7 linked regions of the Homo sapiens genome follow. Changing the gene in region 7 together with the main gene of any one other region gives a genetic interaction. Each region holds a gene or a part of one and is shown on either strand. Other genes may lie near its edges.

Region 1 (3,500 bases), on a different chromosome or scaffold from region 7:
ACAGGCAGTCCCATGATGCCATTAAGGTGTTACAGGTGCTGTTAAGGATGAGTTCATGTTTTTTAGGGTTTAGGCTAAGGTGCTCTAATATAGACCCCAGAATACATTCTGGCTTAAATTCGGTGGTGGATTTTTTTTCTCTCTCTCATAACAGTCTAGGACGAGATTCCTCACATGTGCTTGCACCCCATACACCCATTGGCCAGGAGGGTCACGTGACCACACCCAGCAGTTCAGGTTGCCTGTATTACAAAGGATGAGAGGCGGTGCTGGGTGATGACTGGAGAGATCATCAGGGTGACCACTGGGGAAGGAGTTTGGACTTGACTGTGGGCAAGCGGAAGAGCCAGAATAGAGTTGGTGTTAGAAGGCACCCTGAGGCTTATGTGAAGGAAGGATTGAAGTGAGGTGGCCAGCAGCAGTGTAGGCAGACCAAACCGGAGGCTGTGGGAGTCTGGAAGGCTGAGGCTAGACTAAGTGGTATGTAGAGATGAGGCTGCATTGATACGGAAGGATTCAAGATTGTTCAGGAGGCAGAAGGGACCACGTGGTGGTTTTTGCCTTGGTGGTGAAAAACTGGGCAGATGGTGCAATTGTGTGCTGGTGTGTGACATCTTTCCCAAAAGATGGGAAGTGTGTGAGGCTTCCCAAAAGCCTCAGTCTTTCTTCCCCATCCCCTTCTTTCTTTTTTATACACAGGCGCCCACACAGTCTGCTAGAAAGTTGGAGGAAATACTGTAACAGAAAGTACTGCATCACATTTCAGTCCTCCATGCCCCTAAAAGTTACGTTATTCAATTCTGTTACAGTGGAGTAATCTCTTAGCCCCAGAATTACAGTGAATTTTTTAATACATTGAAAAGAGTGCGCTATTTTTAATATTTTTTTGTTCTTTTTGTTTTTCCCTATTAGTGGGTGATTAACTGTACTGGTTTTAATCAGTTAATTACGTCAGTTGCTAAAAGTCTGAATCTTCATTAGTGTTCATGACAAATTTTATGACTTAAGTAATTTATCTGAGTTATGCTTCACATGCACATAGTTTTTATAATTTTATAGATATTAATACAATTTATATTTGTTTTTGATGCTTTAATGGGCATAATTTGGCAGGTGAGAGCCCCTCAAGTTGTCTGCTATGTCATTTCACACCTCTCCAGCGTTTTGGGGATCATTTTGCCTCTGGCATGAGGGAAGGATCCAGGCTCAGCCCAGTTTGAAGGCAAGCCCATACGTGCTGCAAGTGCGCTAGGACTGGAGCATTTTTTGCTCCAGTTTCACCTTCAGCAAGCGCTATATGGTAATCGTGTGCTGGCAGCCAGCCTGTCTCAGGGCAGCTTCTCTTAGAAGAAAAGAACCAGCATGGTTTTCTTGGTGTGAGGAATTCATCTGACTTATATTTGAGATTTCCATTTTAGATTTATAAACTTTATATTTTACATTTTGACTCTCACCAGAATTTATAAACTTGTCTAAATGAAAAAGGCTACCTTTTTACTGGTGCACCAAAAATAAGTCTTTTTAAATGGGTGAGGTATAGTCTCTGAGCCTTCTCTTCTCATGCACATGTTCAGCAGCTTGAGGCTCACACAGCAAGGGCTGGAGCTGGGCAAGGGCCAGTCCTATCCTCGGAATGTGCAGGGTTTCAACAGCCCAAGCCTGCCAGGCTTGTTCACTTGGTTATTGATTCATTTCAGTGCTCCTTTATTTATTTATTTTTTTAGACTAAAATAGTTTTAATAAGGAAATAGTTTTCTTCCTTCCCTTCTCCCATGTTGTGGATTGATACCCAGAAAGGAACCCTTGTTAGCAAGCAGCGGAGCTAGGATTAGAAGAATCATGTCTGCCTGTTTTTTCCAGGGTGCTGTATTTTCCTACTGTGATTCTTAAAGTCTTTTCAAAATGGATAAACATTTCTTGTGATACTATTGTAAGGTTTAAAAATCTGCTTAAGTTAGTGATCCATGCTGCTTGCTTTTTGTGTGCCGTTAATGTGTTCCCAGAACGGGGAGCTGGGCTTGGACAGGAGTAGTCCCTCGGGAGATGTCCATAAAAGTTGATGCAGCTGAGCTCTTTCCATCCTGTCCTGGGTTGCTGTGTGCATTGCATTCTCTCAGAATCCTTCTTTCCTCTCCTCAGTGCCCTGAGGTACGGCTGAACATCATCTCTAACCTGGACTGTGTGAACGAGGTGATTGGCATCCGGCAGCTGTCCCAGTCCCTGCTCCCTGCCATTGTGGAGCTGGCTGAGGACGCCAAGTGGCGGGTGCGGCTGGCCATCATTGAGTACATGCCCCTCCTGGCTGGACAGCTGGTGAGTGAGGAGGCCTGGGGGCCAGGCAGTGCTGCCTCAGGGGAGGTGCAGTATGTCCAGGGCTGTGATGGGGAAACGGGGCTTTGAAGGCTTAGTGGAGGCTGTGACAACTGCCTGGGGAGTCGAAGGAAGGGACCCAGGAAATAGGGCCTTAAAAGATGCATTGGATTCAATAAGAGAGAGGAGGGAAAGGAGCACCTCAGACAAAGTTGAGAAGTGTCCGGTCTTTCTAGGGTGGGTGTAGGTTCCATGGGATGTGGCTAGCAGCTCCCCCTGTTTGCTCTCCTGGAACGCTTACCTTGGAACCCTTGGTTTCTCCTGTAGGGAGTGGAGTTCTTTGATGAGAAACTTAACTCCTTGTGCATGGCCTGGCTTGTGGATCATGGTGAGTACCTTCACAGGAGCAGCAAGAGGAGATGGGAGCTCCAGAAAGGCAGGATGGATTGGCTGGGGCTGTGGCGGGCAGTGGAGGAGGCTAGAGTCACTCCCCACGCCGCTGGATGCTCGTATGGACCAGCTCGCATGCTTGTTAGAGTCCTAGAGAAGTGTTGAGTGGGAGGAGGACGAAACAGATCACCCAGGGGTTGCCTGGTATAGTGGAGAGCCAGAGGGCCACTGAGCAGCCAGACCAGGGTTTTGAATCCTGCCCTTGGGGCTGTCAGATCTAAAACAAGTCACCTGCTGTCTTTGAATGAGCCCCACACTCATTCTTTGAAACTTCTTATTCTGGTGCCTTGGGGCCATTATGAGAATGGCTCATTGTTTACACTAAGAGAGGTAAAAAATAAAAGGTAATATTTATCTCTGTGAAGCCCTGTTTGAAGTAATAAGTGCCACATAATTTAGGCAAATCACTTCTTAGAGCCTTAGTTTGCCCATCTGTAAAATGAAGCCAGTAGTGGAACCTACCTCTTGGAGTGGTTGAAAAGATACTGTATAAAAAAAAACAGTTACTAGATATAGCACATAGTAAGTCCTTTTTTCTCTCTTTGGCTCACATGCAGCCTGGCACCTAGGGGCTGCTTTGTAAGCCATGGTGAGTGTGACCTACATTTTGCCCACATCAGTTCTTCACCTCCAAATCCCTGTCTCTCTCACCCTCACCCTTCTGCAGTATATGCCATCCGCGAGGCAGCCACCAGCAACCTGAAGAAGCTAGTGGAAAAGTTTGGGAAGGAGTGGGCCCA
Region 2 (3,500 bases), on a different chromosome or scaffold from region 7:
TTTTCTTTTGCCAATGGATGTGTACGTGGATTGGGAACACGCTAAAAACTCAAGTAGTATTCATATTGGCCTTAGCTCTTACTTCCTATCAGGCCTTCTTGTGACTCCACTGAACATCCCCTTCCCATCAGCTAGTGATGCCTGGAGAACTTATCTACCCCTTCTGTGGCTGTCTTATTTCCAGAATGTCCCCATTAAATTACTGGTAGTTTGCTGCTTGCCTCAACTGGGACTGCAACCTCTGGCTAGCAGAGCTGCAGCTTTTTTCTTTTCATTTAGTACCTATTTTGCTATTTTTATTGACAGTGCTGCTGAGCAATAGTTTTAGCTATCTGTTGGAAATCAGGCCAGCCCCTCTGGCTACACAGTTATTGGCTCTTATGGCCAGATTGCTCTGGTAAAACTTCTGTTGATGGAGTGTCTGGGGACATTGGGGAAGAGGAGGAGGGGATATGGAAGTACTTCCAGGCAAGAAGGCTTCAGATTCCCTCTGTTTCTAACTTGAAGTTTAGCAGATTATCATGAACTAAACACGTCTCAGATTTTATATTTGCCCTTGGTTGATTTCCAGGACCCAAAAATGGTTAGTTTTTGACAATTTTGTTCATTTTTATATTTAATTTCTGGGGAGAGGATTTGCTGACCTCTTTATTCTATCACAGCTGGAAGTCCACTTCTGTTGTTATTAATTTATAAAATTCTTCTAAAAGATTACATATCTTATAATTCCTATTTTAAGCTGATCAGCATATTATAGGCTTGATTCTTTTGAACCAAAAGCATTTTGCCAAAACAATATAATTTTTATTTTAAAATCCAATTTATTAATAAATTTAAACTTTTAATTTTTAAAGACCATCATTCATTTTAATATATTCTATTTAATTATATAAATATAAGGTCTCAGTATAGTAAAGGATAAAGAATTTTTTAAAGATGGCCAAACCTGCATTAAAGAAATGCTTAAGCTATTCTAAAAGCTCTTCAAAGGCATGAAAGTCTCAATTATTTTAAAAAGTGTTTTAAATGACATTGCCATGCATTTTATTCTATTAGAACATAACCTTAAATGCTAATATGACTGTTTTATGTTCTTTGAGGAAAAATGAATATTAAAATGTTGTAGATTACTGAAGTGTTTTTGAAGTACCTAAACTTTTATTTTAATTTAAATTCATTTAAATTATTTTTCATTAATTTGGTTTTAAACCTGAATACAAATATAGTGATAGTTCTAGTTGCCATATAGACCTAGACCTTTTACTAATTCAGACCTTTCTTCCTTTCACTTATAAACAGTTGTCAAATATTCCTAAACACTTAGATACTGGTCAGTGATGCTTTTAATATGCTACTTAATTTACAGGAACGTCCTATTTTTAGATTGAAATTTGGCTTTATTATAGGGTACCATAAGACTACTTTCTGAATGTCTGGCTGTTATTCTTTTCTGTTTAGATATTAATGGGTTAAATACTAATAGCCAACTAAGTGTCTGCTATGTGTCAGGTACTGTTCTATGTACTTCTGTGGTATTATCTCATTGAAGGGTCACAGTCAATCTCTGAGACAGATACTATCATTAGCCACAGTTACCAGATGAGGAAACAGAGACGTAAAATGGTTAAGTGACTTTCCCAATAGCTCACAGCTACCAAGTGGTAGAGCAGGACTTGATCTCAAACAGTCTTAACCATAGAGCTCATGCATGTGCTTACCCACTTGCTATGTGGAATGAAAAAAAGATGACTTATAGAAGTAAAGTCCATGTCTTTACAAAGCAGCATCAAATGAGCAGAGCTGCAGTGTGCCATGGTCCTAAGACTCCTCTAAGAAAATGGTCCCCTGAACTGTAAGTGCCTATCCACCTCTTAGATAAGAAAGAGATGCCAAAGGGAAAGTGAGTCTTGGAGAGAGTGGAGGCTGCGTGATTGAACTGATCCTCCCTATTAGGAGTGTTTCCGTCTAGTGGAAATTTGTAACTGTAGGTTTCATTTCATTAAAGTCAACATGTACTTTACATCAATAAGATTGGATTATACCTCTTTATTCCTTCCATTGGCAACTATGTAAGTCATCCCAAAAGAATTTAGACTACATTTATCTTTTTTAAATCCCAGCTTTCTAAACAGTCATTGTTTTAGTCCAGGATAATTCTAAATTTTTTTGCATTTTTCCTGCATATTTTCTATGCTCATTTCCCCCATAGGGTCATCTGCCCCCACATTCTGTTCCCAAATCTCTGCATGGTTGTTTTTTTCCTTGTCGTTCTGATCTTTGATTAAGTTTCACCTTATTTTAGTCCATTTAGGCTGTCATAACAAAAATACCATAGACTGGGTGGCTCAAGAACCAACACTTATTTCTCCCAGTTCTGAAGGCTACAGGATCCAGGATGAGGGCACTGGAAGATCCAGTGTCTGGTGAGGACCCGTTTCCTATTTCATAGATGCCATCTTCTCACTGTATCCCCACATGATAGGAAAAGAGTGAGAGTTACACCTCTTAGGGTGTAACCCTAAGAGGGATACACACATTCAGTCCATTGTATTACCTCTTCCTTCAGGCCTTCCCTTTCCAAGTCTAATGTCACCACAATCCCTCCAGAATCATGTTACCCTGTTGTGTTTCCTTTGTAGGGCTTATAATTATCTGGATTATCTTATTTATTCGTTCTGTGTGTTTATTGGCTGTCTCCTGCACTGAAATCTAAGTTCCATGGGATCAGGAACATTGTTTATCTAAGAGATGCAGTGGTCTCTATAACTATAGCTAGAAGTATTCTGGCAGACACATAAAAAAGATGATTGATTAATATATGTTGAATTGCTAAATATTAGTTTAAGGCAGGTAAGGGAAACCAGATTCAAGTTGGACAGGAGGACTTGGCATAGGCCCAACACATCAGGGCTTTGAGCCCAGGGCCCAGTTAGGGATGGGAATGAAGGTTGGGAAGAGAGCTGTAGAGAGGAAGCTGATGCCTTGCTGGAAGAATCAGGCGACTGGTCAGAGTCACCTGGAGATGGCACTCAGGGAGAAACAAATGCCAGGTGGTGCTAAAAATGCCAGATACATGCAATAACCTATCACTAGTGGATAACTCATCCCTCACCACCACCACCCCAAATCTCCATACCCAGTGTCACCAATACAAGAGGAATTGTCCCTTCCAGTTCTTGTGAGTGGATATGTGCATAAGCATACAGACATGAATGTTTGGAGCTGAGGGGTAGAGGCAGCAAGGACAGCCACATAATTCATCCCATCAACAGCTCTGAGTTCAGCTTCCCCTTGGGTTGGCTGAGAGAAGAAGCCAAGAGAAGAAACTAGGCATCCCCTAGTCTAAATCCAGCCTACAAGCCTGTTTTACTTGTCCCACTCCATGTTTAAAAATAAATTATGCCAACACTTAAATGTAGGAGGTTTAACATAAACTTCAGCTTTTCTAGGTTAGTTTCACAAATAGGGAGGTCTGGCATGCTGAACCTGCATTCCCACAT
Region 3 (3,500 bases), on a different chromosome or scaffold from region 7:
ATTGTTGGGAGCTCAGCATAATCTCTACAGACAGACACCCCTCACTCCTTAGCTAGACAGAGCAGGACCACTGGAGTCAGGTCTGGTGACAGTAAAATCCCACAAAAACAAAATGCTTCTAGACATGGCCAACACCCCTTTATTTCAAACAAAGTTGCAACGTGGCAGAGCATCAGAAGCATCCCTTTGGGTTTTCGTAGGAATCTGGTCTGTGTGCATGAGGCCCTTGTTTGGGCCTCCCCCACACCACATGTCTGTGTCTGGCCCCGCACCGGACCAGTACCCATAATGCTGCACACCACCTCTACTCTGAGAGTCTGAACTCACTGCAGACCTAACTGAATGTTGCAGCATTTACTTTTTTATTATTACTACACTGTTGAAAGTGATGCACATGCATCCTTCAAGAAGTCAAATAGTGCTGCAAGGTTAACATCAAAACACCACCATACCCCTCCTACTCTCCTTCACCCTTGCAGTAACCTCTGTGAATTCTTTCAGCAGTTTTTTCTGTTCACATTTATGTTTCCACATAATTCGCCTGTGCTGCTCTTTATTGAATTCCCAGTTTTTGACATTATCTACTGGCATGACTATAGAAACTAGAATTTAGCTCACGCACTGCCCCTACCTCTACCCCCACCAAGCTTAGGCATACTTTTCCTTCTCCCATTCTCCCAGTACAGTTCATCACAGTTTTGGTTAAATTCAGAGTTTACGTCATGACGTGTAAATACGGCTGACAGTTAAGCCACAGAGTGTACAGTGATTATTTTCTTTCTTCTATAACTTTAAGTTTGCCAGAGTTAGGGATTGCCTCATTGTTTTGTTCACTTGGTTTTCTAAATATATGTTCCTACTTCAGCCCCACGTTCTCAGCGGTCTCATAGTGGTGTGTTCAGACACATCAGAGGTTCTGTTTCATCTTTGTCTTGGAGACATGCCCCTGGGTCTCGTTTCTGTTAGTCTAAGGTTAGACCTCCAGGACTGACCTCCTAATTCTTTCCTCTTAGTGTCTCTGGCTTTATCCTTTTGTTCTACTTTCTCAGAAGTTTTATTTTTCACCTTTTCAACCCTTCTATCAAAATTTTCATTTCTGCTTCGTCTTTCTAACTTCAGGAGCCTTTTCTTGCTGTCCGAATGCCCTGCTTTCCACAGCGTGCTCATCTTGTTTCCTAGGAGGCCGTATCTGCTCTCAACTGTCTGATGATTCTGTTTGTTTTCTTTCTTCTCCCTTCATTATCTGACTCCTCCTCTTTTCCTGTCTTTGTTTTGGTTTTGTTCTCATGTTAAAGAGGCTTTTCACATGTAATCTGATGATGCTTGGCTGTCTGTTGAAGGAATGAGAGACTCTGAAAGCTGTTTGTGCATGGAAGGTCCTTGTTGTCCACTGGGCTGCATTGTGGGTGATAAGGCAGACTTTTTCAGCGGGACCCCCAACTGTCAGAATCTGTAAGCCATTTTGGGGGAAGCAGGTGGTGTTCCTGAAGAGGAATCCTCTACTCTCCTCCTGCCTGACGGGTCTAGGCCTGGCCGGCTGCCTTTGGGGATCTGGAAGGGGAAGGAGCTGGGGTTGCTCATCACTTAGTGTGATGTTCACTTGTCCCCCCGTTTTCAGAATCGCAGCTCAGCCCTGTCCTCTACCGTGCAAACCACTGCAGGAAGATGGCCCTTTCTTCTGCCTGCATGGGGACGGAGATGGATTTGGGGATCTTTCCAGTGCTTCCGCCCACTGGTTTCAGCTTTCCCCCTCTCCTTGGTTAACGCTCACCTGTGACCTTTCTACCCTCAAATTTTTGACTTTTTTTACTGGTCTGCTGACCTCACTTCTCCCATTCTTTTTCCCCTTATGGGTTTATGCTTTTTTTTTTAATTCCTCTGCAGTCATGGTAGTGGGGTTTTAGGAGCTTTTGATTAAAACACGTTTCTGCTGCCACGTCAAGGGTTTATTTTTGAGTGGCTTCCTGGGCTGTGGAAAATGTGTCATCATTGTTAGTACTTACTCAGCATCCTGGCCTATCATGGTCATAGCCAAAGAGCAGACTTACTGGGAAATTCAACTCCCTGTCTTCCCCCATCTAGTTCACTGGTGGTGAGAATCCTTCTCTCTTCCCAGCCATGACTGCCCCATCTCCCCTCGCCAGAGCCTGTCCAGCCGGTCAACTTTAAAAATGCAGTGCTAGGCAGGCCTCCTAGGCTGAAAGCATGTTTTGTTCCAGCAGAACAAAGATACTTATGAGCCTTTCTGCAAGGTCCCTGTGATCACCTCATCCAAGGAAGAACAAAAACTTATAGCGACTTCAAATAAGGTATGTTGGAGGCACCCTTGTGGAATTTCTTTTGCTACCAGAAATGATGGAGGTTCTTCTGAATAACTTTTGAAATAAAAACATGTATAATTGCCTGAGTGAGGCCTGATAATGGGTTCACAGTGGGAAGCTACAGGTCATCTTTTGTGCCCCTGCTATTGGGTCATGTGGTCCCCCTCTCCAGCCAGCAAGCTATGCTTGTCTGCCTCTTCTGATGCAGGGCAGGGCCCCAGCCCTATGGGAAGCTAGTAGTTCATTGCATCTGCCTGCCAAGTAACTCTCTTCTTCTTCTTTTAAAACAACCCACAGCCAGCCGTGAAGTTGCTCTACAACAGAAGTAACAACAAATACTCATATACCAGGTAAGGCGTCAGCCGGGAAAGACAGCTCCATTTACTAGGAAAACCTCCACTCACACCAGCCAGGCCCAGCTCTTCTTCGTACCTTCAGATGAGGATGACCCCTCTGTACCTCTCTGCCTGGATAGATAAGTAGACAGATGGATACAGGGGTATAACTCTGAGCTATAATTCACACATATCATAAAAGTCATCTTTCTAGAGTGTACAGTTATTATTATATTCACAATATGTGGTTTTTATATATTCACAAGTTGTGAGGCCATAACGACTATCTAATTTTAGAACTTTTTCACTGCCTGAAAAGAAACCCTCTATTCGTTAGCAGTCACTCCCCATTTTCCCTCAACCATTGCTTCCCCAACCCCACAGCCCTAGGTAACCACTAATCTGTTTTCTGTCTTGATGAATTTGCCTGTTCTGGACATTTTTATGTGAATGGAATTGCATAATATATGGCCTTTTGTGACCAGATTCCTTCATTCAGCATAATGAGATTACCTAAGAGGTTTTCAAGGTTTATCCATGTTGTAGCATGAATCAATACTTCATTCCTTTTTATGGCAGAATAATATTCCACAGTGTAGACCACATTTTCTTTACCCATTCATCAGTTGATGGACATTTGGGTTGTTTGCACTTTTTGGCTATTGTGTGTAATGCTGTTATGAACATTCATGCAAAGTCTCTATGTGGACTTACGTTTTCATTTCTCTGGGAACAGAATTGCTGGGTCATGTGGTAATTCTATGTTTAATCATTCGAGGACCTGCCAAACTGTTTTCTAAAGTGGCTGCACCATTTTACATTCCCACCAGCAATATATGCAGGT
Region 4 (3,500 bases), on a different chromosome or scaffold from region 7:
AGGATTGGCCAGTACCCATGTATTTCTAGACTTTAGTATTTGGTAAAATAAAAGTCTAATTAATAAAATAATTTTGAAAGTACATTTAATTTGTAGTAAGGATATATGATTTGTAACAAAATATATAAACCATCTTAACTATTGATGTTTTAAAGTGACTTAGGTGCTATATTTAAATTTAAGAATTTGCATTTATTTTAGGAGATCTCATATAATTCATACAAAAAGAGTATGTGTATCCACTCCTTTGCATATTTGAATTACAATGATTTCTCATTTCAGATCTCTTACTTATCTTGTTAATAGGGATCTCCTGTTTGGATAAAATTGATTTTTTTTAACACATAAAGTGAATTCCTAACACCAACCAGCATATGCATTTTAATTTCCTTTTAAAACTTAGTTGACTTTTTTATCTTCCTTTTAAATCATAGGAAAGTTTTGATTAAAATTAGTCTTCTTCCTATATACACAACCCTGGAGCTTACCACCAACATGACAAAAAGTTAAGAGTTTGCCAAAGCTAGAGTCATTAATCCTGTGCAACTGGAACATTATATGATTACTTTATTGTCACCTTTCTCCTGAAGCTCTCTTCTAAAGATAGAGCATTTGGAGGGAGCTCTGTTTTTGGGATCTGGTGAGGCTGTTGGTGCCAGAGGAGCAATTATCCCCTAAATCAGATATAAACTTGGCACTTGAAGAGAACTGAGAGGAACAATGTTATATCTCTGTATCTAGATGGGGTTCACATACTAGCCTCTTCAAAATCTTATGACACAATTTTTAAGTGTCCAAACAAATAGAAAAGTACCATGGTAAAAAGTACCATACACTGTATATTATTGATTGTAATTTTCAGACGCACATTTTCCCAATTTTGACATCTCTGAAACTAGGAACTATCTAACAATCTAGCAATTATAATTGGATTGGGAGTGGCTTGTCTTTTTTAGTGGTACATAAAATAATGGTGCATCTTTCAACTGATGGTGTCTTCCATTCCATTATTTATAAATTTGGATAGACAGAAATATTTCAGGCAGAGGTATAATAAAATAAGGCAGAGGTATATAATAAAGGGACAATCTGATCCCTTAAGTATTTTCTGAGTTTGTCAATAGTCAATTCTTTTGCGATTCATTCAATTAAAAAGTGCCTATTATTTCTAGGTGTTATGGTTAAAGATCCTACCCTCACAGAGCATACAGCAAGCTGGAAAGACAGGCAATTAGATAGTTAATTATAATACCGTGGTGCATTATATAATAGAAGCAAAGGTGCTGGGATACACATGTCCTAAGGTAGGGTCCAATCTACTTCAGGGTATCTCTTGGAAATGACGTTTATTCAGGGATTGAGATCAGTAGCAGTGGGAGTAACTACTTATGCAAAGTCCCCAAGGAGACTTTAGAGTAGCTGGCATAATAAAGGAGCTGAAAGAAGCTCAATAATCTTGAAGATAGAAATATATGCAGTCATTTGCATCTCTTGATACTCTACTGTACTTGCTTTGAGGGCGAATACAATTCTCCAGTCACAGACTGCTCTGAATAGGCAATCTATTCTGACTTTAGCACTGTGGCAACAGTTTCAAAATATCTTTCATCTCAGTTTCTTAACATGAATTTGAGTACACTATTTTGTATTTCACACAACAGAAGAGAAGTGTAGGTAAAGAATAGCATTTTAGTCCCCAACTTTTCTAAATATATTTTAAACATGAGCTACTTTATTCTACTAAAATATGTTAAGATGTGGAAATTCAGCAAGTTCTAAATCTAGTGGGAAGTTTATTGGGTTGGAAGTGGAGGAACATGTTAGAGGAGCATCTATCTACTGAAGTCAGAACATCAGTGATAAGCTGTGGCCCAAGAGCTCATGCTTCAAAATAGCTGGGTAAGTGTTATGACAGGAGGGAAGAGAAATAGTTAAACTAGTATAGCATATATATGTGTCTCATGGTTACTCTCATTGCCTGTTTACTAAACAAACAAAAATCCCGTGAATTCATTGCTGCCTTTACAAACATCACAATGAGTAAGACAATTTTCACCATCTTCAGCAATTCCTGACAATACATTGTCTGCCATTGGGAGTCATTCTTTGTTTTGAATAAGTGGCTGACTTCCTCCCCATATTCAGCCATCTCCCATCTCCTCACTGGATTTCATTTTGAATAGGAAATCTTGCCTGTGAAAAGAAGACCCTTGCTTCTAGGCCAACCAAAATGTTTCTAGGGAAGAGAGACATATAGTTTAATTAGGGCTAATTCTATATTTATATTCTTAATAACGAGAAATAGTAGTCTTACTTGAGTTACACTTAATGCTGTACACCTAAAAATCATGGAAATAAAAGATTGACTTGTATCATTAATTAGGTCTTTATCCAAGTATTTTAGACAACTATGTTTGGATTTCACATTTAGAGGAGTGAGCAAGAGAGAATGAACTTATCTTTAGGCAGCCAATATAGCATATTATTTTAGAGCATTTAATTTGAGGTCAGAGATATGAATTGAGTAGATTTGTCATTAGTTCTTCAACTTTGGACAAATGAAATTAACTTCTTAATACTATATTTTGATTTCCTCATCTCTAAAATATTGATAATAGTTATAAAGTTTTAATTTTTTCTTTTCTTTTTTTCAAGGCTAATCAACAAGCTGAGGGAGTGAAAAAAGAACAAAGAAATCTGTGACTGCTTGTGATCAATTAGTAAACTTAATTTTTTAGATTAAAATGAAATAATACATGCAAAGCCCTTGGCACAGTGCCTTGCACATAATACATTTCGGGGTTAAGTTGTGCTAGCTATTCTGTTATTGATTGTCTTGCCCTTTGTTCTCTGGAAGGTTGGATCTTGCCATTTGGGGATGGCCAATGGGAAGGCTGAGCAAGACATCAGAGGGTGGGAGGAAAGGAGGTATATTTATTTTCCTTACTCCTTCTCTGCTGGGCTTCAATTTTGTCACTAGCTGCATTCCTTTTTATGACCACAACTCCAGTCTAATGGCCACCCTCCCATAACTAGAGTTCATAATCAAACTAACACTGCCACCTCCTCAGGCCTAGGAATGGTCATGGTTTTTCTTCTCACCTTGCTTCAGGTTCTTTTTTCCCTACTGTTGCTTGCGCTAGATGCTCCACCCTCTTTTCTTGTTCCTTTAAGGCCTCTCTAAACTGTCACTTTATGAAACTGTCTTCAGTTAAATCCTTTATATGTGACATCAGTTTATGCTGAGACTTTGACATACATAAAATAACAATCCTTTGGACATAAGGACATCTTTTTGATGAATCATTTTAGTAAACGTTGTAAGGAGCTAATATAAGACAGTCTAAATCAAATAGGAAGTTTATTGGGATGCTGGTGGCTTGTTGTTCTGATGTAAACCCAGTTTGGAAGGCTGTAGAGAGTTTATTTAGATGTCAGAGGGTGGTAGGATGGAAAGGTGGAATTCTTTTCTCGATGTATAAAACAAGGTCATATCTTCA
Region 5 (3,500 bases), on a different chromosome or scaffold from region 7:
CTGCCTCAGTTTTCTTATCTATAAAATGAGTATTAACAGTACCTTTCTCCTAAGGTGGTTGTGAGAATTACATGATAGGGTAATACATGTGAAATAATTAGATTATTGCCTGTCATACAATGTTTAGTAAATGTAATGTGCTGTTATTAACTGGTCATTAGTTTCTTTTTTTCTTTCATAATTGGTTTATTGGTCGTGTTGATGATCAGTACACAGACATTTCAATTTGTACACAATTCTTAACATATATACTGAAAATCTAAAAAGCCATGTGTTGTAATTTTTAAAAAGTTATTTCAGTGACTTTCCAGCTTAAAATTGGGAAGCAAATTTTCCATAAGAGGCTATCAAGTACCAGTATCTTCACATGTTAGTAAGCTGTTACATAGATCTCACCAATTCACAGTATAATACCATATAGACTACATACTCAAATTTTCAATCTTCCACAGCACATTAACAAAGTTCATTAGAAAAGCAGGACTACCACGACCAAAGATGTTACAGTGCACAGAATTATGACAGGGAGAGCCATGATCAAAGAGTGTTTTTCTTTAGGAAACAATTCTACTAAAAAATAATGTGGGAATGAAAGTAATTTAAAATGTTCAAGACATTAAATGCAGGACTGCAACTCCATATTGCCATTTAGTATGCTTTGTATTACAGGATATAAAAACTAACCCCCCAACTATGGAATGTTAAGCTGACACTCAGGACAGTCAAACCCTCCCATAATTCAGTATCTCACACAAACCTGTGTTTACAAAATAGTTGGTAACAGTATTCCTCTGGGTTGTACAAGATGGGAAATAGGGACCACTGATAAGATACAGTGTGTTATGATATCAGTCAAACTTGGCTTCTTTATCTCTGGCGTCATCAGAGGCTGGACTCTTCTCAGTTTTAGTTTCTTCGTTTTGTGCAGGTAAATTTCTTTAGTTTCCTGGTTAGCCACTTTGGCCTGTTTTCCCTTTGCTCCCTTTTTCCCTTTGTTTGCACTTTTTTGTCTGAAGATTTATCCTTTCCTGCTGCCTTTTTTTAGCTTCGTTTCCACTTTGGCGGGAGCAGGTTTAGCTGACAACCGCATTGATTCTCTCTTAGGCTGTTTCTTCACCATCCGTGTGGCTGAGCTGACCTGTGGGCTCAGGCTGCACACAGAAGTAGCTGCTCACCCTGTGTGTGCCTGGCCCACCCATTACTTCGTTTCTAACAATAATATATTTGTTTTAAATGAAACACTAATAACGTACAAATAAATTGTCATTTTCTTGTTAGAATTATTTTTCCTCTGAGAACTTTACATTACAATTTTGAATGTGTTGCCTTTTGGGTCTTCAGGCCATGGGCTCATATTAAATATTAATGCTATTATTATTAATATGTGCCAGGCACTATAAAACACTTTACATATATTAACGCCATGTTGTAGGAATTATTAATGATTATGATTATTGCAGACTTTAATTTCTTGTCCACCTGTGCACGGTGTTACCTCTTATCTTTATGGGAATATTAAAGGAGAGAGTAGTAGAAGACCTGGTTATTCCATTAGAGGTTGCTTAGTGAATCCTTCTGGTTGAGGAAAACTAGATCATGCTGGAGACTATACCAACCAGATTGTTGTTGGATATGTGTGGGTACGTGTTCCCGTTGTTGCATCCTCTGACTATGGAGATGATCTGTTGAGAAAGGCAAAATGAGAATTTATCAGAAGGCTCTGCTTTCAGGTGTCCCGATAATTGAGACCTTTATCTCTGTGTCTTATTGATAGTTTTGTCATTTATGTGTCTATTAACAGGATCACTTTCTCAATAATAGCCTCAGGTTGAGGGGGTATTCTTTGATTTGGCTGAAGGAACTCCTGGATGCCAGACCATGGGGAAGCTTTGATTTAAGAGCATAACTGCTGTAGATGGACGTTTTTGACATGTAATCAAACTCCTGGAGTTTCAGATCTGCGTTTAGATTATGTGAGCTTTATTATTTATGTAAGGGTAAAGGAAAGGATTTGTAAGACATTTATTTATTCCTCTTATTTAATTTGTGGTTTTGCAAACCTAGTACAGTTTCTTTTGTTTTTTCTTAGAAATAAAGGAAATAATAAACTAGGATGGTTGTTAAGCTCCCTTCTGTGTGTGTATGTTTTAGGTGGTATTAAAGATAATCAAACATTATCAAGAAGAAGGACAAGGAACTGAAGTTGTTCAAGGAGTGCTTTTGGGTCTGGTTGTAGAAGATCGGCTTGAAATTACCAACTGCTTTCCTTTCCCTCAGCACACAGAGGATGATGCTGACTTTGATGAAGGTAAGGGTGTTCATCACAAGTGTGTCTTTGCAGTGCATACAAATGGATATTGACACAGGTCTCACCATAACTTTTGATAATGTGTGAATTGGGAATCTGTCAGGCTAGCCTACTTCACTTGATGTCTGATACTTTGGGAAAATTATATAAATTCTGGGAAATGAGGGTTTATACTATAGACATCATTAGTTTGGCCTTTACTTATTTGGAATTTGTGATTCTGATTTGTCATAGATTGGATAGGAACTGTGCTGATGTTGACTTTGTCAACATGAAATCAGCTTGCTAAATAAAGTTTTGAGGGACAAAGATCATCCTTATGTGTCTGTTATCCATTCCCTTCTATCCTCTTTTGAATAAGTCAGTGTTTAGAAAGAGATGGAGTTCAATTTTCTGCTTCAGAAAGAAGATACTCCTCAAGCATTTCAGAAATTTTATTTTTGTACTATAGGTGTAGTTCCTTTGTTAGCAAAGGCTGAGAGTAGTTAAAAGCTCACATCAAAGGCTAAAATCAGCATCTAGAAGATTTTTTAAAAATCAAGTTGAAAATAACTTCTCACTTGTTTGAAATCCCTGGTTTCATTTTCTGTGTAACTTTTTATTGTAAAAAGCACATAAAAATTTTAAGTATACATTACAGTAGTGTTAAGTGTATGCATATTGTGCAGTAGGTTTCTAGAACTATTTCATCTTGCAAAGCTCAAACTCTGTATCCATCGAACAATCCCTTTTTCCACCTCTTTCATCCCCGCAACCACCATTCTACTTTGTGTTTCCAAGAGTCTGACTACAGATACCTCATGTTAGTGGAATCATGTGGCATTTATTATTTTGTGAGTGACTTATGTTATTTAGCATAATGTCCTAAAAGTTCATCCATGTTGTAGCAATGACAGGATTTTCTTCTTTTTTCTTAAGGCTGAATAATAATTCATCATCTGTATATACCACATTTTCCTTATCCAGCCATCTGGCGATGGAAGTTTAGGTTGCTCCCACCTGTTGGCTATTGTGAATAATGCTGCAGTGAACATGGGTGTGCAAATATCTCTTCAAAATCCTGTTTCCATTTTCTTTTGGATATGTACCCAGAAGTGGTATTACATGGTAATTCTATTTTTAATTTTTTGAGGAACTTCTGTATGTTTTTTTTAATAGCAGCTGCACCATTTTACATTTCCAACCTTGCACA
Region 6 (3,500 bases), on a different chromosome or scaffold from region 7:
CAGCACTTGATTTGAGAAGCCATATGCAGTAGTACAGGCTCATCATTTCTCCTCTCCATCTTCTCTAATCCCTACTAGATTTTGGCCTTTGCCCACCCTGCCTCTTGTGATTACGTTGTTTAGTGAAGCAGGGCATGGTGAGGCTAAGACAGTCCAGTTACCTCAGGGCCTTTCTTACAAATCTTATGGTCAGGCTCTGCTGAAGGTTTGGCTCTGAGCCCTTGCTTTTTCCTCCATCCTGTATTTGTTCATGGAGACAGATTAAACCAGATCTAATAGCAGTACCTAACCTAGTGGTATATAGCGGCATTTGCTTTGGAGCTGGGCTTGTTCCATTTCCCCACCTTTTCTGTACAGACTAAGGGAACTGGAGGAACCTGCAGATTCCAGTCTCAGCATTATTGGAGAAGCTCTTGAACCACTTTGAGCATCTCCCCACACCCTCCTCCATGTCCCCAGCTCCTGTGAAAATGTAGACTAGGAGTCAGCTGGTTTGTTCTTAGTCCCTGTACTACTGACAGTGATTTTTACTCTAACCTCCGTACAGCCACATACTATTAAAACAATCTGTTCCATAGAATTTCTAGCAATATAATTGGAGTTGTATATGATAATACAGAGCAACGGGATGAGGAAGACCTTCAAAGAAATCCCAGAATATCCCTGAAACCTACTCCAACACCACCCCTACCCCCAACCTGGTTTAACATCAAGGTGCAGAATGCCAGGCAGTGCAAAGGAAATGAAAGGTCTACCTTGTGGCTCTAGGACGCTCCCCAACCTGTCATCAGGAGCCGTGAGGAGCTCTCTGGGTTGAGGGGCTGAGGGGCTGGGACCAGAATATCTGGGAACTATGGGAGTTTGGTAGAGCTGGGGCAGATCAGTTGTCTGTGGTTCAGGGATGAACAGGAACAGCCACTGCTGCTCCAGGGAGTCAATTTAGGTTTCTGCTGGGCATGAATGGGGTTTCTCAGGCGGGTTGCTTCTCTCTGGGTTAAGTGGCAGCACAGAACACCAGCACAGCTCCCGAGGACACACCTGTGCCAATGCCAGTTGGGCCGGTTAGTGTCAGGGCTCCCTTCTGCCGCTTTACCCTTGTGTTGCCTTTGCTCCTGCAAACCAAACCAGAGGGTCCCTGTGGAGCCACAGAGGTGGGATGGGGAACACACACGGCACAGCTGTTATCTGGACCAGACATTACATGCTATTTGTAATAAAAGTGGGTTCAAGTGGGCACAAAAGTAGCTCCTTTTTAGGTTAAAGAGGTTATTTGCTTCTTTACAGAAAGAAGAAGAACGTTTGAGGGCTTCCATACGTAGGGAATCTCAGCAGCGCCGAATGAGAGAGAAACAGCACCAGCGGGGGCTGAGCGCCAGTTACCTGGAACCTGATCGATACGATGAGGAGGAGGAAGGCGAGGAGTCCATCAGCTTGGCTGCCATTAAAAACCGATATAAAGGGGGCATTCGAGGTGAGTCGTGTATGGAAATTACATTTCATCATTTCGGGATTCTGGACTTCATCTTGGCATTAGATGTAATCCGGCTGCCAAGTCACTGGACTTTTTTTTTTTTTTTTTGAGACGGAGTCTCGCTCTGTCACCCAGGCTGGAGTGCAGTGGTGTGATCTCGGCTCACTGCAACCTCTGCCTCCTGGGTTCAAGTGATTCTCCTGCCTCAGCCTCCCGAGTAGCTGGGATTACAGGTGTGCGCCACCACACCTGGCTAATTTTTGTATTTTTAGTAGAGACGGGGTTTCACCATGTTGGCCAGGCTGGTCTCAAACTCCTGACCTCAAGTGATCTGCCCGCCTTGGCCTCCCAAAGTACTGGGATTACAGGCATGAGCCACTGTGCCTAGCCCGGACATTTTATTTTTAAAGAACGAGTTGTCATGAGTGACCTAGTTCATTCAGGTGAGCTTGAAAGGTAGGAACTGCTGTTGTTCCTACTTTGGGTTTTATCCCTTGAGCTTTTGCTTTCTGACTTGAGAATTTGCCAGTTATACTGGAACTTTTGTCAACCTTTTTTATTACCTAATTGGGAATCAAGAAATTAAACTATTCAGAAATTATGTGATATTTTCTTTCATTCTTCTTCTACATTTCTCTTAGATTTACTTTTGCATATTTCCTCCTTTCACAAGTATCACTGATTTCTGATGGTTAACGTTTTTTCCACACATACTGAATTTCAGGCAAATGCTCAACACTTGACATGCATCCTGTTTGATCCTCATAACAACATTATGATCTAGTTGCTCTTATTTCCTTGTTTTTATTGAGGAAACTGAGACTTTGAGAGGTTGACTAATTTGCCCAAAGGCACGTAGTTGCTAACTGGTCAGTTCTTAAACCAAAGTCATCTGACTTCCGAGACATCTGTCCCAGCCGTGACTCTGCATCCACCTGGTTCTTACCCAGGGGTTCCCCCAAGCCAGTAGCAAGACGACATGGTGAAAAGCGAACTAAGAAGACCTGGCTGGCCTTCTGACCCTGCCCGCTCTCATCTGAGTCCTGCCACTTTTTAGTTGTATAACTTTTGAAGAGTTACATAGTTTCCCTTAACTTCTGTTACCTCATTGTGACAAAAACAACCTATTAATAATGGTAGTTAGAACATAAGGTTGTTTTGAAGATTACATAATATAATACATTTAAAGTACTTAGCCCAGAGCCTGGCATATAACAAGTAAATTTTTAAAACACCCAAATTTATTTTTCTCTGACTGTCCCATGAAACTCATTTCTCCTTTTCTTATAGTGACTGCATTTGGTCTGGTGACCTGTTACATATTACCTACCTATTATTTATTTGGGGACCACAGTACAGAGACCCTTTCTTTTTTGTCAATGCTGATTTCCCATAGAAAAAGATTCAATTGTGTGGAAATAAACCACACAAAAATTAAATAAAAATTTTAAAAATCCAAGGATGCTTTAAGAGAGAGAGGTGTGTAACATTCAGGTCACCAGAGATTAAAAATCTAGCACATGAGTCTAGTAGTGCTCAGTTCCATACAGTAATCAGATAGGCAAGGTGTGGGGACAAAGGGAAGGCTTTGGGTTTTGACGGGAGGGGCTTGGTCTAAAGTCCTCGGCTCTTATTCCACCCAGAGGTTCACCTGGGCTTGGGCAGTGGAGCAGATGGGCGCCCCTCTACATCTCTCTTTGAAAGGTCTGCCTGGCAACAAACGGTCTTTACAGGACCAGGAAACCACTTTCTTGCTTTACCTTCAAACTCATTTTGGAATTAACTGTTACTGGTGGAAGAATGTCTCAGGCTTTAATAGTTGACTTCGTAAGAGTAGGGTATCTTGCCTCTTTAGACACCTTGCACACAAACCTTTTTCATCTTTAAAAGTGGTCAGGTTTTTGTATTTTGAGAGGGTAAGTCTGCTTCATTTCCGCATATCTAAAATTTATACTTATCTTTAAATCAAAAACTTTAAAATTATTTGGTTCCCCTGGGAGGAAATATACAGAGGGAACTAAAGATATTT
Region 7 (3,500 bases):
ATATATTTTTGAAAAATCAGAGTTTAATTTTTAATTAAGTATATTTACTTCATTGTTTATTGCCAGTCATTGGTTTTCAGGTGAAGACACAAATTGTTATTATAATCCCTTGATTTGATACATTGGTATTCAATAGCACAACCGACTCATAGGATTACTTGAAAGCATACTTCTTCTTTTGAATTCTTATCCCCTTCTCCTTTAAAGCCCTTCAAATTGTTTTCCTAGATATCTCTTCTAAATTATGAAGATGGTGTCTTAGATCCAAGCTCCATTGTCCCTTTGATAGATGGGGGGACAGAAGGTTTTAAAGGAAATGCCCGGGTGATTCTGCCTGGAATGACTGCTTGTATCGAATGCACGCTGGAACTTTATCCACCACAGGTAATCAAAAAAGCACCTGCATTTCTTTTATAGTATCTTGGCATGGAATTAGGGATTAATTATTAAGTCTAGTTAATATTTAGGATTGTTAATTAGAAGTGGCCGTATTTTAAAAATTACACTAAGAAGAAAGATAAAATATGAAATTCTGCTCTATTTGAGGAAAGATATGAACCGAGTACATTGTTTTGATACTATTCTGCTTTCATAATTTATTTGTATTTTTTATTTGGGGAGTAGGTATCAAGTAGAATTACAAAGTTGTATATTGATGTCAAGCTGTAATCTATGTGGTTTTCACCTGTATTTATTTCAGGGAAATAAAGATACCAGGGATAAGAATGATCTTTCCAAGGATGGGGCTTTTTGGTTTACATATCCACTTTAAAGAACACTTGAAATTTTGAATAATAAATGTAAACAATTTTATGAGTATTCACTTGGGATTCACTTAACTCTGAACTTGCTTTTGTTTTGGTTTGCTTTATACTTAAATATTAGGTAAAAATAACAAGGTGTTCATATTTGAGAAAATCTGTTCAGTATTTTTCTTCTCATAGTCTAACAAAGCTTAAATTTTATACCTTGTAAATGTAGGGCAAACCTGTCTTTACAGGCAGTGCAGCCTAAGTGAAGTGACTCAGTTAATCTGTATTATAGTTTGAGAGGCATTTTTAATGGTATACAATATTTTGAGTTGAAACAAATTGTATGAAATTGTTAAGAACTAGATCATAACTGGAAGTTGCATTTTAAAATAATTCGTTTAAAATTCACTGAAAAGGACAAACTGTGGTTTTAGGTTAATTTTCCCATGTGCACCATTGCATCTATGCCCAGGCTACCAGAACACTGTATTGAGTATGTAAGGATGTTGCAGTGGCCTAAGGAGCAGCCTTTTGGAGGTAATAAACCTAATTTAATAATCTAGAATTACATAAAATACATATTTTTTCTATATTATTCCTTTGGATAATTTCATTAAAAACATTGTTTTGTGATTACGTATTCCTGTCTTCTCTCTCTCTCTCTCTCCCTTTTTTTTTTTAAACAGAAGGGGTTCCATTAGATGGAGATGATCCTGAACATATACAATGGATTTTCCAAAAATCCCTAGAGAGAGCATCACAATATAATATTAGGGGTGTTACGTATAGGCTCACTCAAGGTAAGTCAGCAAATTGTCATGAATTATGATGTTGGGATGACTTAGGGCTGGGATGCTTTCAGGAGAATAATCGATAAGTGAGTTTAGACAGTACCATCCACTTGAAGTTCAGTAAAGGTACCATGTAATTCATACTACTTATTAGCTAGGGGGAATTTAATAAAATTATTGAATCTTACTTACTTAGGCTATAAGTCATCCAAGTCAAACTGTCCATTTTATCTTCCACTGAATTCATCATCTCTTAGAGACAGTCTATTTCACATTTGGACAGGACTGTTAGACAAATATTCTATATATTGAACAGAAATTGTCTTCAGGTCAGCTGCGGTGGCTTATACCTGCAATCCTAGCACTTCGGGAGGCCGAGGCAGGCGGATCACCTGAGGTCAGGAGTTCGAGAGCAGTCTGACCAACATGGCAACACCCTGTCTCTACTAAAAATACAAAATTAGCTGGGTGTGGTGGCACATGCCTGTAATCCCAGCTACTCAGGAAGCTGAGGCAGGAGAATCACTTGAACCCAGGAGGCTGAGGTTGCAGTGAGCCTGAGATTGCGCCACTGCTTTCCAGCCTGGGCAACAAGAGCAAAACTTCGTCTCAAAATAGAAATCGTCTTCAGTTTGGTCTGACTGTTGTCCCAGTACTGTATACAGTCTAATTCCCTTTTAAGTAATAGCTTTTAACATATTGAGGACAGTGATCACATCCTTTGCAAATTTTTATCAGTGCCATAAACCTCCCTAGTTAGTTCCTTTAACCCTGTATTAGTTCATTTTGCTTTGCTATAAAGGAATATCTGAAACTGGGTAATTTATTCAGGAAAGAGGTTTATTTGGCTCATGGTTCTGCAGGCTGTGTGAGCATGGCAAAAGCATCTGCTTGGCTTCTGGTGAGACCTCAGGAAGCTTTTACTCGTGAAAGCTAAGGGGGATGGCAAGGCATGTCATATGACGAGAGGGAGCAAGAGAGAGAGGAGGGAATACCAGGCTTCTTTTAATAACCAGCTCTTGCGTGAACTTAATATCACAGGGAGGGCACCAAGCCATGCATGTGGGATCTGCCCTAACGGTCCAAACACCTCCCACTAGGCCTCACCTCCAACACTGGGGATCACATTTCAGTATGAGATTTGGAGGGGACAGATATCCAAACTATATCCAACCCTTTGATATGTTGTACAGCTTCAGGTTCTCATGTTGTTTTTCTGTAACCATATTCCAGCTATCCATATTGGTTAACTGGAATATAGTTAGAGAAAACAACTTTTCCTAATTGTTCAGGCCAACATGCAGCATTATGGGACTGGTCTTAACTTTAGATAATAGACTTCTGATAACTGATGCAGTCTTAAAGGAGAGCAGGTATTTATGTTGTTGTTTTTTTGTTTACATTGATGCTATACTTTGGATTCTTTGATGTTACTAGCCACTGAAAGCTGGATGTTTTGTCCACATATGCAATTGCTAAGCCACATCTGCCTATTATAAACTTGGCAGTTTGGGGAGTGTCTTTTTTTTTTTGTTTTTCTTAATATCCAAGTATAGGTCCTTACAAATGTATTCTTAAAATTCAACCTGTTTTTCTCTCTTTATATGTATTCTGCCAACTTACCTGGTGTTTCTAGCTTCATTTCACCTGTTTTGATAATTATATCCTTTATTTCTTTTTCAAATAATTGATGAAAATTTTTAATAAGACTGAACTCTCTGAGAACAGACATCTGAATCATACTTCTGGCCAGGCCCTTTTAGGTTTATCTCATTCTGTTCATCAGACCTTCTTGGTACTTTGTATTTCTTTATCTTGTTCACAAGGATGTCATGAAAAACCTTTCCAGATCCTCTACTGAAGCCTAGGTATGCTATCTTTTGCATTTTCCTGAGTTGCTAAGTTAGTCATAGTAGCCAAATGAGGCTACTCCAACATGATTTGTCTAGTAACCAGT

What was found.
Region 1: changes in UBA3 (region 7) and PPP2R1A together harm fitness more than expected from each alone (negative genetic interaction), as found in Homo sapiens cells (one large-scale study listed by BioGRID).
Region 2: of UBA3 (region 7) and ATG10, changing one enhances a phenotype caused by changing the other (phenotypic enhancement), as found in Homo sapiens cells (one large-scale study listed by BioGRID).
Region 3: changes in UBA3 (region 7) and KCTD10 together harm fitness more than expected from each alone (negative genetic interaction), as found in Homo sapiens cells (one large-scale study listed by BioGRID).
Region 4: changes in UBA3 (region 7) and PELO together harm fitness more than expected from each alone (negative genetic interaction), as found in Homo sapiens cells (one large-scale study listed by BioGRID).
Region 5: changes in UBA3 (region 7) and EIF3H together harm fitness less than expected from each alone (positive genetic interaction), as found in Homo sapiens cells (one large-scale study listed by BioGRID).
Region 6: changes in UBA3 (region 7) and LEO1 together harm fitness more than expected from each alone (negative genetic interaction), as found in Homo sapiens cells (one large-scale study listed by BioGRID).

What each region holds. Positions count from the first base shown.
Region 1 is NC_000019.10:52,217,552-52,221,051, forward strand, and holds part of PPP2R1A (serine/threonine-protein phosphatase 2A 65 kDa regulatory subunit A alpha isoform), read left to right. Parts: intron 1-2,139; coding exon 2,140-2,313; intron 2,314-2,637; coding exon 2,638-2,698; intron 2,699-3,427; coding exon 3,428-3,500. UniProt on the Homo sapiens protein: The PR65 subunit of protein phosphatase 2A serves as a scaffolding molecule to coordinate the assembly of the catalytic subunit and a variable regulatory B subunit.
Region 2 is NC_000005.10:82,248,023-82,251,522, forward strand, and holds part of ATG10 (ubiquitin-like-conjugating enzyme ATG10), read left to right. Parts: intron 1-3,500. UniProt on the Homo sapiens protein: E2-like enzyme involved in autophagy. Acts as an E2-like enzyme that catalyzes the conjugation of ATG12 to ATG5. ATG12 conjugation to ATG5 is required for autophagy. Likely serves as an ATG5-recognition molecule. Not involved in ATG12 conjugation to ATG3.
Region 3 is NC_000012.12:109,456,801-109,460,300, reverse strand, and holds part of KCTD10 (BTB/POZ domain-containing adapter for CUL3-mediated RhoA degradation protein 3), read left to right. Parts: intron 1-2,219; coding exon of another isoform or gene 2,220-2,222; coding exon 2,223-2,309; intron 2,310-2,618; coding exon 2,619-2,671; intron 2,672-3,500. UniProt on the Homo sapiens protein: Substrate-specific adapter of a BCR (BTB-CUL3-RBX1) E3 ubiquitin-protein ligase complex. The BCR(BACURD3) E3 ubiquitin ligase complex mediates the ubiquitination of target proteins, leading to their degradation by the proteasome.
Region 4 is NC_000005.10:52,790,916-52,794,415, reverse strand, and holds part of PELO (protein pelota homolog), read right to left. Parts: intron 1-3,500. UniProt on the Homo sapiens protein: Component of the Pelota-HBS1L complex, a complex that recognizes stalled ribosomes and triggers the No-Go Decay (NGD) pathway.
Region 5 is NC_000008.11:116,724,824-116,728,323, reverse strand, and holds part of EIF3H (eukaryotic translation initiation factor 3 subunit H), read left to right. Parts: intron 1-2,151; coding exon 2,152-2,308; intron 2,309-3,500.
Region 6 is NC_000015.10:51,947,779-51,951,278, reverse strand, and holds part of LEO1 (RNA polymerase-associated protein LEO1), read left to right. Parts: intron 1-1,284; coding exon 1,285-1,471; intron 1,472-3,500. UniProt on the Homo sapiens protein: Component of the PAF1 complex (PAF1C) which has multiple functions during transcription by RNA polymerase II and is implicated in regulation of development and maintenance of embryonic stem cell pluripotency.
Region 7 is NC_000003.12:69,059,866-69,063,365, reverse strand, and holds part of UBA3 (NEDD8-activating enzyme E1 catalytic subunit), read left to right. Parts: intron 1-228; coding exon 229-384; intron 385-1,186; coding exon 1,187-1,289; intron 1,290-1,438; coding exon 1,439-1,552; intron 1,553-3,500. UniProt on the Homo sapiens protein: Catalytic subunit of the dimeric UBA3-NAE1 E1 enzyme. E1 activates NEDD8 by first adenylating its C-terminal glycine residue with ATP, thereafter linking this residue to the side chain of the catalytic cysteine, yielding a NEDD8-UBA3 thioester and free AMP.